Linked DNA regions of Homo sapiens. Changing the gene in region 3 together with the main gene of any one other region gives a genetic interaction. Each region holds a gene or a part of one and is shown on either strand. Other genes may lie near its edges.

Region 1 (3,652 bases), on a different chromosome or scaffold from region 3:
CACATCTTTCTAGAAATTCTTGCATTTCAACATTTAACAATTTTATGAGCAGAAGAGAATTTTCCTTAAATACCGGGATTTTTGAAGGGGGGCACAAACCATCAAATTAACTTCACTGCACACGAAATGCTCACCATGGGACAGCCTGCCAAGCACTTTTCACACGTGATTTAAATCACAGGCACTGTGGCAGCACCATTAAGGAGACAAGGAACAAGCCAGGAGAGGTGCCAGCCACGGAGCTGCAGGCTGAGCACGGGAGGGCCCAGAGCCCAAGCCTTCCCTTCCTGAACACCCCCGGGCATGGTTCCGACCTAGTCTCGTGAAACCACCGGAATTACAAAGTTTTGTATGTGATATATTTTGCCGAGGTGCATGTTCATAGTACCATTCTCACACTCAAAGGGACCTGTGACCTCAAAATGTGAGCACCTGCTGGTCTGAGGCAGTCTTTTCTCTGTAGGAATAAAGCTTTGAAATACAATAAGTAAATTACTTTTCTTCCGGAGGGCTATCAAAAACGATTTTCCTCAAAAACCATTTTGGATGTTATTAAAAACTTCGACATTTTGTTCTCTATTCCTAAAATCCACTTAACCCCTGAATCCTAACCGTATATTAATTAACATTCAATTGTAGAACTCACTTCCGAACCTTCTAATAGGAACATTTTCCTCATGTTTTTGTCTTGTATGAGCTTTGACAGCATATACTTACTCCGGTAAGAGGAAGCTAACGCTGATGGTTGTTTGTTTAGAGGGATCTGTAGCAAATGAATCCGGGCCACATGTTATCTGGAATTCCCTCTGTAAAATGACGTGACGTTGTGAGTAGGCACAGTGTCTGACGGTTGTCAACTACTCTAGGTTATCTGGATACACGAAATGGAGCGAAACAGGCTTTCCACTAAGTTAACTTTCCTTTCAAACAAATTACCATTCTTTCAGCTTGAAAAGCTCTCCCATACTCTGTACCAAACATGACAGCATCTGAAATCCCATCATCAATACCCAGTCCAAGTCCTCATGTCAACATATTTACCAGGAAGGACACAAACACGGTGGGGCACTCACAGGCTTGTCCCAGGGTGTCTGAGCTGGCACCACGGTGCTTGGTTCAATTTTCTGGAATTTGCTCAGTGCTTCCTCGTGAATTTGTTTCAGATGCTGTTCTAATGGAAAATTACCGTACGTGAAGAACCTAAAATTTTAAGGGAATATAATTAGTCTGTTTTAGTTTAAAAGATGTGAGATCAAGTGCTGTCTGTTTCACTGAAACACAGCACAGGAGTGCCCCTTACCCAAGGTCTCGCCTTTCGGTTTCAGTCACCCTTACTCAACCAAGGTCCAAAAATATCACGGTACTTCGAGAGACCAAAATTCATGTAACTTATTACAGTATATTGTTATAATTGTTCTATTTTATTATTAGTTATTGTTGTTAACCTCTCGCTGTGCCTAATTTATAAATTCAACGTTCATTCACAGGGCATGGTGCTATTCCTGGCTTCAGGCATCTGCTGGAGTGCAGTGGCACCGTCACAGCTCACTGCAGCCTCAAGCAATCCTCCAGCCTCAGCCTCCTCAGTAGCCGGGACTACCAGGACTACACCACCACACTTGGTTTTGGTGGGGGGTTTTTTTTTTTGAGATGGAGTCTCGCCCCGTCCCCCCAGGCTGGAGTGCAATGGCACAATCTCAGCTCACTGCAACCTCCGACTCCCAGGTTTAAAAGATTCTCCTGCCTCAGCCTCCCAAGTTGCTGGGATTACAGGTGCCCACCACCATGCCCAGCTAATTTTTGTATTTTTAGTAGAGATAGGGTTTCACCATGTTGGTTAGGCTGGTCTCGAACTCCTGACCTCAGGTGATCCACCCGTCTCAGCCTCCCAAAGTGCTGGAATTACAGGCGTGAGCCACCGTGCCTGACCGGCTAATTTTTAAGTTTTAGAGGTGGGTTCTATGTTACCCATGCTGGTCTCAAACTCCTGGCCTCAAGCAATCCTCCCATCTTGGCCTCCGTAAGTGCTTGGATTTGCAGGCATGAGCCACCACACCTAGCCAAAAATCGATCTTACATTTTAAACTTCATCTAGATGTGACAAAAACCAAATGAGGTATTTGTTAAAACACTTTATAACCCTAGGTACAGTAATATAGTAATCCAACTGACAATTTCACAAAACTCAATTTTTGGCAACAAATTCAAGGTTATACACGTTTATAAAGATAACACATTTATTCAACCAGAGGAAAAAGGTTACAATGACAGAATTTATCTTTTTCTTTACTATATAGCCTGAGCTATGGTTAAGGTTTGGGAAACTAGTATCTTACAGAACCTTCAGAAATTTCTCACTCTAGAATTTAGAAACAAATTTTACACACTCGGGGTTGAGAGAATCCAGGAGCAATCACCACCCCTAGTGTTCAGATGCTGCTCTCCAAAGACCCTTCCCCATTAGCCACAGAAATCAGAGCTCCCTGGGGAAACAGACAGTTGAACCTCTGGAGCAGGGAGGGCCCGGCTGTGCGTGCATTAGGGAGGTGGGGGTGGGGGCGTAGAAACCAAAGAAGTTAGACCAAAACGGGCCCACAGCTGGGGCAAATGTGGGCATAAAAATGAATAAATTCCATCTGATCACATAATCTCAAATATATACATATACAGAAATATTTCTGTGAGGTCAGAGTGGTACTAAAAAACAAAACAAGACTGGGGAAAAAAAAAAAAAAGAAGAAAAGAAAGAACTCTCTTCTCCATGTTGGGCGCAGTGGCTCACACCTGTAATCCCAGCACTTTGGGAGGTCAAGGTGGGCAGACTGAACTCAGAAGTTCAAGACCAGCCTGGGCAACATGGCGAGACTCTGTCTCTACAAAAAAATATAAGCACTAGCTGGGCATGGTGGCGTGCGCCTGTAGTCCCAGCTACTCAGGAGGCTGAGGTGGCCCAGGAGGCTGAGGCTGCAGTAAGACAAGATCATGCCACTGTACTCCAGCCTGGGGGACAGAACCAGACCCTGTCTTTAAAAAAAAAAAAAAAAAAAAACAAGACAGCCTCTTCTGTCACCATTAAAAGTAGTTCCTGCACCACCCCTCCTCCTCAAACTGGACTTCCCAGGGAGAGCAGCCGGCCCTGCCTTTTCCACAGAACCATATTTCAAGATAACCCGATAGCCCAGCTGATGTGGAGCTCTTCTTTGAAGAAGTCCAGCAAACAAATGAAGAAGTTACAGAACTAGAAAACTTCGCAAACTCTAATAAAGTAATTGATTCAGGCAATAATCCTCAATGAATATGAAAACCATTAATAGGTTGATGAGGAACTCATTATCACAGGACACCAGAAACTCAAGCCCACCAGATGGTCTGTGGCTGAAGGGAAAAAGCAGATCTTCCCAAGGCAGTGGCTGACTCTCAGCATGGACCCCGCTGGTGTGAGATCCCCAGTGGAGGCGAGCAGACCTCACATGATGGTAGGATGTGGCCGTCTATGGAGAGCTCCCCATGAGGGACTCTGCTTACAAAGGCACAGCCTGACTCAAACTAAGTCTTTGGATCTAAGTTCCAGTGCTCAGGAAACACAGGAACATGGCACCCAACACCAGGCGGGAACAGCCAGGCCACCTGGAAAGTGAGTGCGCCAGAAAGA
Region 2 (3,652 bases), on a different chromosome or scaffold from region 3:
TTTTGTATTTTTAGTAAAGATGGGGTTTGGCCATGTGGCCAGGCTGGTCTTGAACTCCTGGCCTCAAGTGATCTGCCCACCTCAGCCTCCCAAAGTGCTGGAATTACAGGTGTGAGCCACCATGCTCGGCAGTATGGCCATTTTAATGATATTGATTCTTCCTATTCATGAGCATGAGATGTTTTTCCACTTGTTTATATCTTCTTTGATTTATTTGAGCGGTATTTTGTAATTCTCATTGTAGAGCTCTTTCATCTCCCTGGTTAGTTGTATTCCTAGGTTTGTTTGTCTATTTGTTTGTTTTTTTGAGATGGAGTCTCGCTTTTGTTGCCCAGGCTGGAGTGCAGTGGCGCCATCTCGGCTCACTGCAACCTCCACCTCCCGGGTTCAAATGATTCTCCTGTCTCAGCCTCCCGAGTAGCTGGGATTACAGGTGCGTGCCACCATGCCCGGGTAATTTTTTTCTGTATTTTTAGTAGAGATGAGGTTTCATCATATTGGTCAGGCTGGTCTCGAACACTTGACCTCAGGTGATCCACCAGCCTCAGCCTCCCAAAGTGCTGAGATTACAGGCATGAGCCACAACACCCAGCCAAGGTATTTTATTCTTTTTGTGGCAGTATGCACATAGTTCTTGGCCCCATGTAGTGCATCATGGGGAACCTGCTGTTGATGTGACTGCCTTGCACATGTGCCATTGTATTACCCTTTTCGAGTGTTTTTTTTTTTTTTTTTTTTTTTGGGGGAGACAGGGTCTCATTCTGTCACCCAGGCTGGAGTGCAGTAGTGTGATCTTGGCTCACTGCAGCCTCGACCTCCGGGGCTCAAGTGATCCTCCTGCCTCAGCCTCCTGAATAGCTGGGACTACAGGCACTTACCACCATGCCCAGCTATTTTTTGTATTTTTTGTAGAGATGGGGTTTTGTCATATTGATTAGGCTGGTCTCGAACTCTTGGGCTCAAGAGAGCCTCCCTCCTTGGACTCCCTAAGTGCTGGGATTACAGGCATGAACCATCACACCCAGCCTGTATTCTCTTTTAAAATAAAGGTTTTGGCGGTAATCCCAGCTACTTAGGAGGCTGAGGCAGGAGAAGGGGTTAAGCCCAGGAGTTTGAGGTTACAGTGAGCTATGATTTCACCACTGGCCTCCAGCCTGGGTGACAGAGCAAGATCCTGTCTCAAAAAAATATGTGAAATGGCCAGGTGCGGTGGCTTACACCTGTAATCCCAGCACTTTGAGAGGTTGAGGTGGGCGGATCATCAGAGGTCAGGAGCTCAAGACCAACCTGGCCAACATAGTGAAACCCCGTCTCTACTAAAAATACAAAAATTAGCTGGCATGGTGGTGCACGCCTGTGGTCCCAGCTACCCGGGAAGCTGAAGTGGGAAGATCTATTGAGCCTGGGAGGTTGAGGCTACAGTGAGCTGTGACTGCGCTTGAACCTGTGCCTGCGCTTGAACCTGTGCCTGAATACTACCCTAGACAGGTTGAGTATTCCCTATCTGAAATGGCTAGGACCATAAGTGTTTCAGATTTTGGATTTTTGTCAGATTTTAGAATATGTACATTATACTTAACCAGCGGAGTATCCCTAATCTGGAAGTCTGAAGTGCTCCAGTGATAATTTCCTTTGAACATCATGTCAGCACTCAAAACTCAAAAACTTTCTGATTTGGGGCATTTCGGATCTCAAGAGTTTCTGATTAAGTGTACTTAACCTATATATTCCCTTTTCTGTTAATACTTGTTTTCCAGTACCTTCTTAATTACTTCTCTTTACCATTTTTGGTTTATTGCCAAACAAAGCATACTAAAGAAAAAAAAATTGCCCCAGGCTCACATTTTGCTTGCCAATAGAAATGAGATGTCTTGGCTAGGTGCCGTGGCTCACACCTGTAATCCCAGCACTTTGAGAGGCCAAGGCAGGAGGACTACATGAGTCTAGGAGTTTGTGACTAGCCTGGGCAACAAAGTGAGACTCCATCTCTATAAAATAAAAAATAAATAAAAAATGTGGTTTTTTTTGGTAGAGACTGGGTCTTCCTGTGTTGCCCAGGCTGTTCTCCAACTCCTGGGCTCAAGCGATTCTCCCTTCTCGGCCTCCCAAAGTGCTGGGATTACAGACGTGAGCCACCATGCCCAGCCTAAAAAATAGATAAAATTCTAAAAAGAAGAAATGAGGGCCAAGTGTGGTGGCTCATGCCTGTAATCCCAGCACTTTGGTAGATTGAGGTGGGTGGATCACCTGAGGTTGGGAGTTTGAGACCAACCTGACCAACATGGAGGAACCCCGTCTCTACTAAAAATACAAAATTAGCCGGGTATGGTGGTTGCATGCCTGTTATCCCAGCTACTTAGGAGGCTGAGGGAGGAGAATTGCTTGAACCTGGTAGGCGGAGGTTGCGGTGAGCCGAGATCGAGCCATTGCACTCCAGCCTGGGCAACAAGAGCGAAACTCTGTCTCAAAAAAAAAAAAAAGAAAGAAATGAGGTATCTCATCTAAGGCACTGCTTCCGTCCATTAGCACAGGTAGAACCTTAACTATTAGAGCTCTCAGGGACCTCAGAGGTCATCAAGAATTGATCCTTACAGGAGCTTATATAACTGCATCACTTACCTGCCTTCTTCTGGTCTTTGGGAAACTCGAGATTATATTTCACATTAGCTGGATACTTTTAGATCATGAAAAGTTGCAGGGATCTAAGAGGTGAGACTTCAGATCCACAAAACCTCATTTTTACCGTTCAGTTCAGCTGTCAAAGCTGTTAAGCATTTAATGAGATGATTGCATTGTACTTTTCTGCACTCAGTGCTGCCAAGTGTGTGTTATTTTATAGACCTCTTTTTTTTGAGGCAGTGGCACGATCTTGGCTCAATGCAGCCTCCACCTCTCAGGTTCAGGTGATTCTCCTGCCTCAGCCACCCGAATAGCTGGGATTACAGGTGCCTGCCACCACGCCCGGCTAACTTTTATATTTTTTAGTAGAGATAGGGTTTCACCATGTTTGCCAGGCTGGTCTCAAACTCCTGAGCTCAAGAGATCTGCCCACCTCGGCCCCCCAAAGTGCTGGGATTACAGTTGTGAGCCACCATGCCTGGCCCTATTTTATAGATTTTTTTTTTTTTTTTTGATGGAGTCTCACTCTGTCACCCAGGCTGGAGTGCAGTGGCGTGATCTTGACTCACTGCAACCTCGGCCTCCCGGGTTCAAGCAATTCTCCTGCCTCAACCTCCTGAGTAGCTAGGACTACAAGTGTGCGCCACCATACCTGGCTAATTATTGTATTTTTAGTAGAGACGGGGTTTCACAATGTTAGCCAACACTGGTCTCTAACTCCTGACTTCAGGTGATACACCCGCCTCCACCTCCCAAAGTGCTGGGATGCACTTGGGAGGCATAAGTCACTGTGCCCAGCCTATTTTATAGATTTTTTTTTTCTTTTTCTTTTTTTTTTTTTTTTTTTGAGACGAAGTTTTGCTCTTGTTGCCCAGGCTGGAGTACAATGGTGTGATCACCACAACCTCCGTCTCCTGGGTTCAGGCGATTCTTCTGCCTCAGCCTCCCGAGTAGCTGGGATTACAGGCATGTGCCACCACGCCCAGCTAATTTTCTACTTTTAGTAGAGACAGGGTTTCTCCATGTTGGTCAG
Region 3 (3,652 bases):
AAAAAATTAGCTGGGCATGGTGGCATGCGTCTGTAGTCCCAGCTACTCAGGAAGCTGAGGCAGAAGAATCACTTGAACCCGGGAGGCGGAGGTTGCAGTGAGCCGAGACCACGCCACTGCACTCCAGCCTGGGCGACAGAGCGAGACTCCGTCTCAAAAAAAAAAAAAAAAAAAGAATTGTATTTGTAAGAGATTACATACTCTTGCATGTTTGATAACACATAAGGTAAAGGAAAAGAAGGTAGAAATAGGTAAGATTAGAATATTGAGTCATGTGGCAGTATGTTATAAAGGCTGCCATGGAAATTCCAGAGGGAACTACAAGAATGCCTGAGCAGTTTTATGTTCCTGCAGAAATTACCCTTACTATGTGCTGGGCACTGTTACAAATAATTTGTTTAAGGGTATAGTTGAGGTGGGATACCATGAATTTGTGATGGATGCAGTCTGCCTTTTTGGGGGGGGACTTTTTTCTACTGTTTCACTGCCTACCTTCCTCTACTTCATTGTACTCAAGGTAAGCCTCATTATCATCAGTGTTGGCTTTCACAAGGATGCAGTCTCATGACTTGGCCTTTGTAGGAAAACACCATTAGAAGAGTAGATGGTTGGGTAGTGGCTCTCTTCTTCTTCTGCTTAGACTCTTGTCTACTATGAATAAAGGGCTCTATTTGCAAAGGCCGTGATGGGTTGAAGCACATTGAGAAAGAGGCTACTGAAACATAAGTTACCTTTCTCGCCCAGGTGAGATTTCAATGGAAAAAGTGAAGGTAAAGCGTTATGTGTCCGGAAAAAGGCCAGACTATGCCCCTATGGAGTCCTCAGATGAGGAGGATGAAGAATTTCAGTTCATTAAGAAAGCCAAAGAACAAGAAGCAGAGCCTGAGGAACAGGAGGAGGATTCATCCAGTGACCCCCGGCTACGGCGTTTACAGAACCGTATTAGTGAAGATGTGGAAGAGAGGTAATGTCTGTGATTGTGTTTACTTGAACATGAACCTCTACAGCTTAATAATAATAATAATAGCTAATACTTGAATAGTACTACCAAGTAGATTACATTTGCTAATTCTTGTAATCCATACAATAACTTTATGAAATAGGTGCTATTATCCCCATTTCACAAAAGGAGGAAACTAAGAGCACAAAGGGGCTAAGAAAGTTACATGACCAAAGCTACAAAGTGGCAGCTTCAGGAAACAGCAGGTTACTTCTGGCCTAAAGGACCTACTCAACTCCTTATGGGAATAGAAAACACAGACCATTTGTTGGCTGTTGAGAGGAGTCTTTTTAGCACAAAGATGTTTTATAAACTTTGGTAAATTGATTTTATACATCTACTTATTCTAAATGCTAATAAGGGGAAATGACACTGAAGTAGGAGAAAAGACCTTATAAAGGTCTCATGGTAGAAAGAGAGCCTCCCAGTGAGGGATTTTGTATGTTATATATTGATGGAGACATTACTTTATAGAGTAGGCCAGGAGTCCTGAACTTTCACCGTTCATAATTGTCCCAGGAGTTTTTTCACAGAGCTCCTGGGCCAAAACAGTTCTGTTTATTTTAGTTATTAAGTAGTTAGAGCCAAGTAACTTAATAAGTATTTATGTCCTAATAACTTTGCCACTTGAAGATTAACAGTGCCCATGGCCAGGTGCGGTGGCTCACGCCTGTAATCCTAGCACTTTGGGAGGCTGAGGCGGGTGGATCACGAGGTCAGGAGTTCAAGACCAGCCTGGCCAACTTGGTAAAACCCCATCTCTACTAAAAATACAAAAAAATTAGCCAGGCCTGGTGGCGGGCACCTGTAATCCCAGCTACTTGGGAGGCTGAGGCAGAGAATTGCTTGAACCTGGCAGGCAGAGATTGCAGTGAGCCGAGATCACGCCACTGCACTCCAGCCTGGGTGACAAAGCGAGACTCCATCTCAAAAAAAAAAAAAGAAAAGAAAAAAGAAAAAAAAATAAAATTACAGTGCCCAGGGGGGAAAAAACACTTTTATTCATTCTCACATAACCATAGTTACTAGTGGAATTTGTTTGCCTGTTGGACACTGACAGCCTTTCAAACCTTGGAATCAGCACTGTCACTTTTTCATGTCTTGTTTTATATTGATTTTCATACTATACTTTCTTTTACTTTTTATCACAGCAGCCACCAAAACCCAGTTTCACAAAGACACGATATTCTCGAAAGGAATGTAGTGTGACTTAATGTTGAAAGTGAATTATCTTGAGCTATTAAAAATATTCCAATGCAGGCCAGGCTCAGTGACTCATGCCTGTAATCCCAGCACTTTGGGAGGCCTAGGCAGGCGGATCACCTGAGGTCAGGAGTTCAAGACTAGCCTGGCCAATATGGCGAAACTCCATCTCTACTAAAAATAAAAAAATTAGCTGGGTGTGGTGGTGCATGCCTGTAATCCCAGCTACTCGGGAGGCTGAGGCAGGGATTATCACTTGAACCTGGGAGGTGGAGGTTGTGGTGAGCCAAGATCATGCCCTTGCACTTCAGCCTGGGTGACAGAGTGAGATTCTGTCTCAAAAAAAAAAAAATCCCAATGCATCCCTATGAGTTTGCTGGCTTGCTGTGGTGCCCCAGGATGCCTCAACATACATTTAGTATTTCAGGCCCAACTTGACTATTCGCTCTGACATCCTAGTTTAGTTTCTTTAATCTGCACCTCAGTTTCCTCCACCTCAATACTTTAATACTGGATGGACATGGTGGCTCACACCTATAATCCCAGCACTTTGAGAGGCTGAGGTGGGCAGATTGCCTAAGTCCAGGAGTTCAAGACCAGCCTGGGCAACATGGTAAAACCCCGTCTCTACAAAAAATACAAATATTAGCCAGGTGTGGTGGCACGCCTATAGTCCCAGCTACTCAGGAGGCTGAGGTGGGAGGATCACTTGAGTCTGGGAGGCAGAGGTGGCAGTGAGCCAAGATCGCACCACTGCACTGCAGCCTGGGCGACAGAGCAAGACCCTGCCTCAAAAAAAAAAAAACTTCAGTATTAATGAAGGCAAACATAATGTGCTCTGTGGCTATGGAAATGCAGTTGATGCTACTTCATTTTTATGACATTGGTGTTACATTTGGAGATACTGTTTTTCAGATTGGCTCGACATCGAAAAATAGTGGAACCTGAAGTGGTAGGAGAGAGTGACTCAGAAGTAGAAGGAGATGCTTGGCGCATGGAACGAGAAGACAGCAGTGAAGAAGAGGAGGAGGAAATTGATGATGAGGTATGATAAAGGAACATGGGAAGTTTTTTTCTGGATATAAGAAAAAGTTCATGCCAGTGCTCATTTGTTGAAGCCTTAAAAACATGAGATCACTGCTTTGGCAGGACTCTGATCATGTTCCTTGTTTGTGGGGATAGGATTAAAAATAGAATGATACTAAGTTGTATCTTTTTACATTTGAATTTGTTGTGTTTGATGAGACGAACAAAAAGCCATAGGCCATTTGACTGACTGGCTTATATATATGACTTGATAGGAAATAGAGCGGCGGCGTGGCATGATGCGTCAGCGAGCACAGGAGAGAAAAAATGAAGAGATGGAAGTCATGGAAGTGGAAGATGAGGGTCGTTCTGGAGAGGAGTCAGAATCAGAGTCTGAGTATGAAGAGTACACAGACAGTGAAG

What was found.
Region 1: changes in MFAP1 (region 3) and PITRM1 together harm fitness more than expected from each alone (negative genetic interaction), as found in Homo sapiens cells (one large-scale study listed by BioGRID).
Region 2: changes in MFAP1 (region 3) and PSMD4 together harm fitness less than expected from each alone (positive genetic interaction), as found in Homo sapiens cells (one large-scale study listed by BioGRID).

The regions. Positions count from the first base shown.
Region 1 is NC_000010.11:3,159,131-3,162,782, forward strand, and holds part of PITRM1 (presequence protease, mitochondrial isoform 2 precursor), read right to left. Parts: intron 1,201-3,652; coding exon 1,074-1,200; intron 807-1,073; coding exon 718-806; intron 1-717. UniProt on the Homo sapiens protein: Metalloendopeptidase of the mitochondrial matrix that functions in peptide cleavage and degradation rather than in protein processing. Has an ATP-independent activity. Specifically cleaves peptides in the range of 5 to 65 residues.
Region 2 is NC_000001.11:151,257,734-151,261,385, forward strand, and holds part of PSMD4 (26S proteasome non-ATPase regulatory subunit 4), read left to right. Parts: intron 1-3,652. UniProt on the Homo sapiens protein: Component of the 26S proteasome, a multiprotein complex involved in the ATP-dependent degradation of ubiquitinated proteins.
Region 3 is NC_000015.10:43,814,541-43,818,192, reverse strand, and holds part of MFAP1 (microfibrillar-associated protein 1), read left to right. Parts: intron 1-744; coding exon 745-964; intron 965-3,118; coding exon 3,119-3,248; intron 3,249-3,504; coding exon 3,505-3,652. UniProt on the Homo sapiens protein: Involved in pre-mRNA splicing as a component of the spliceosome.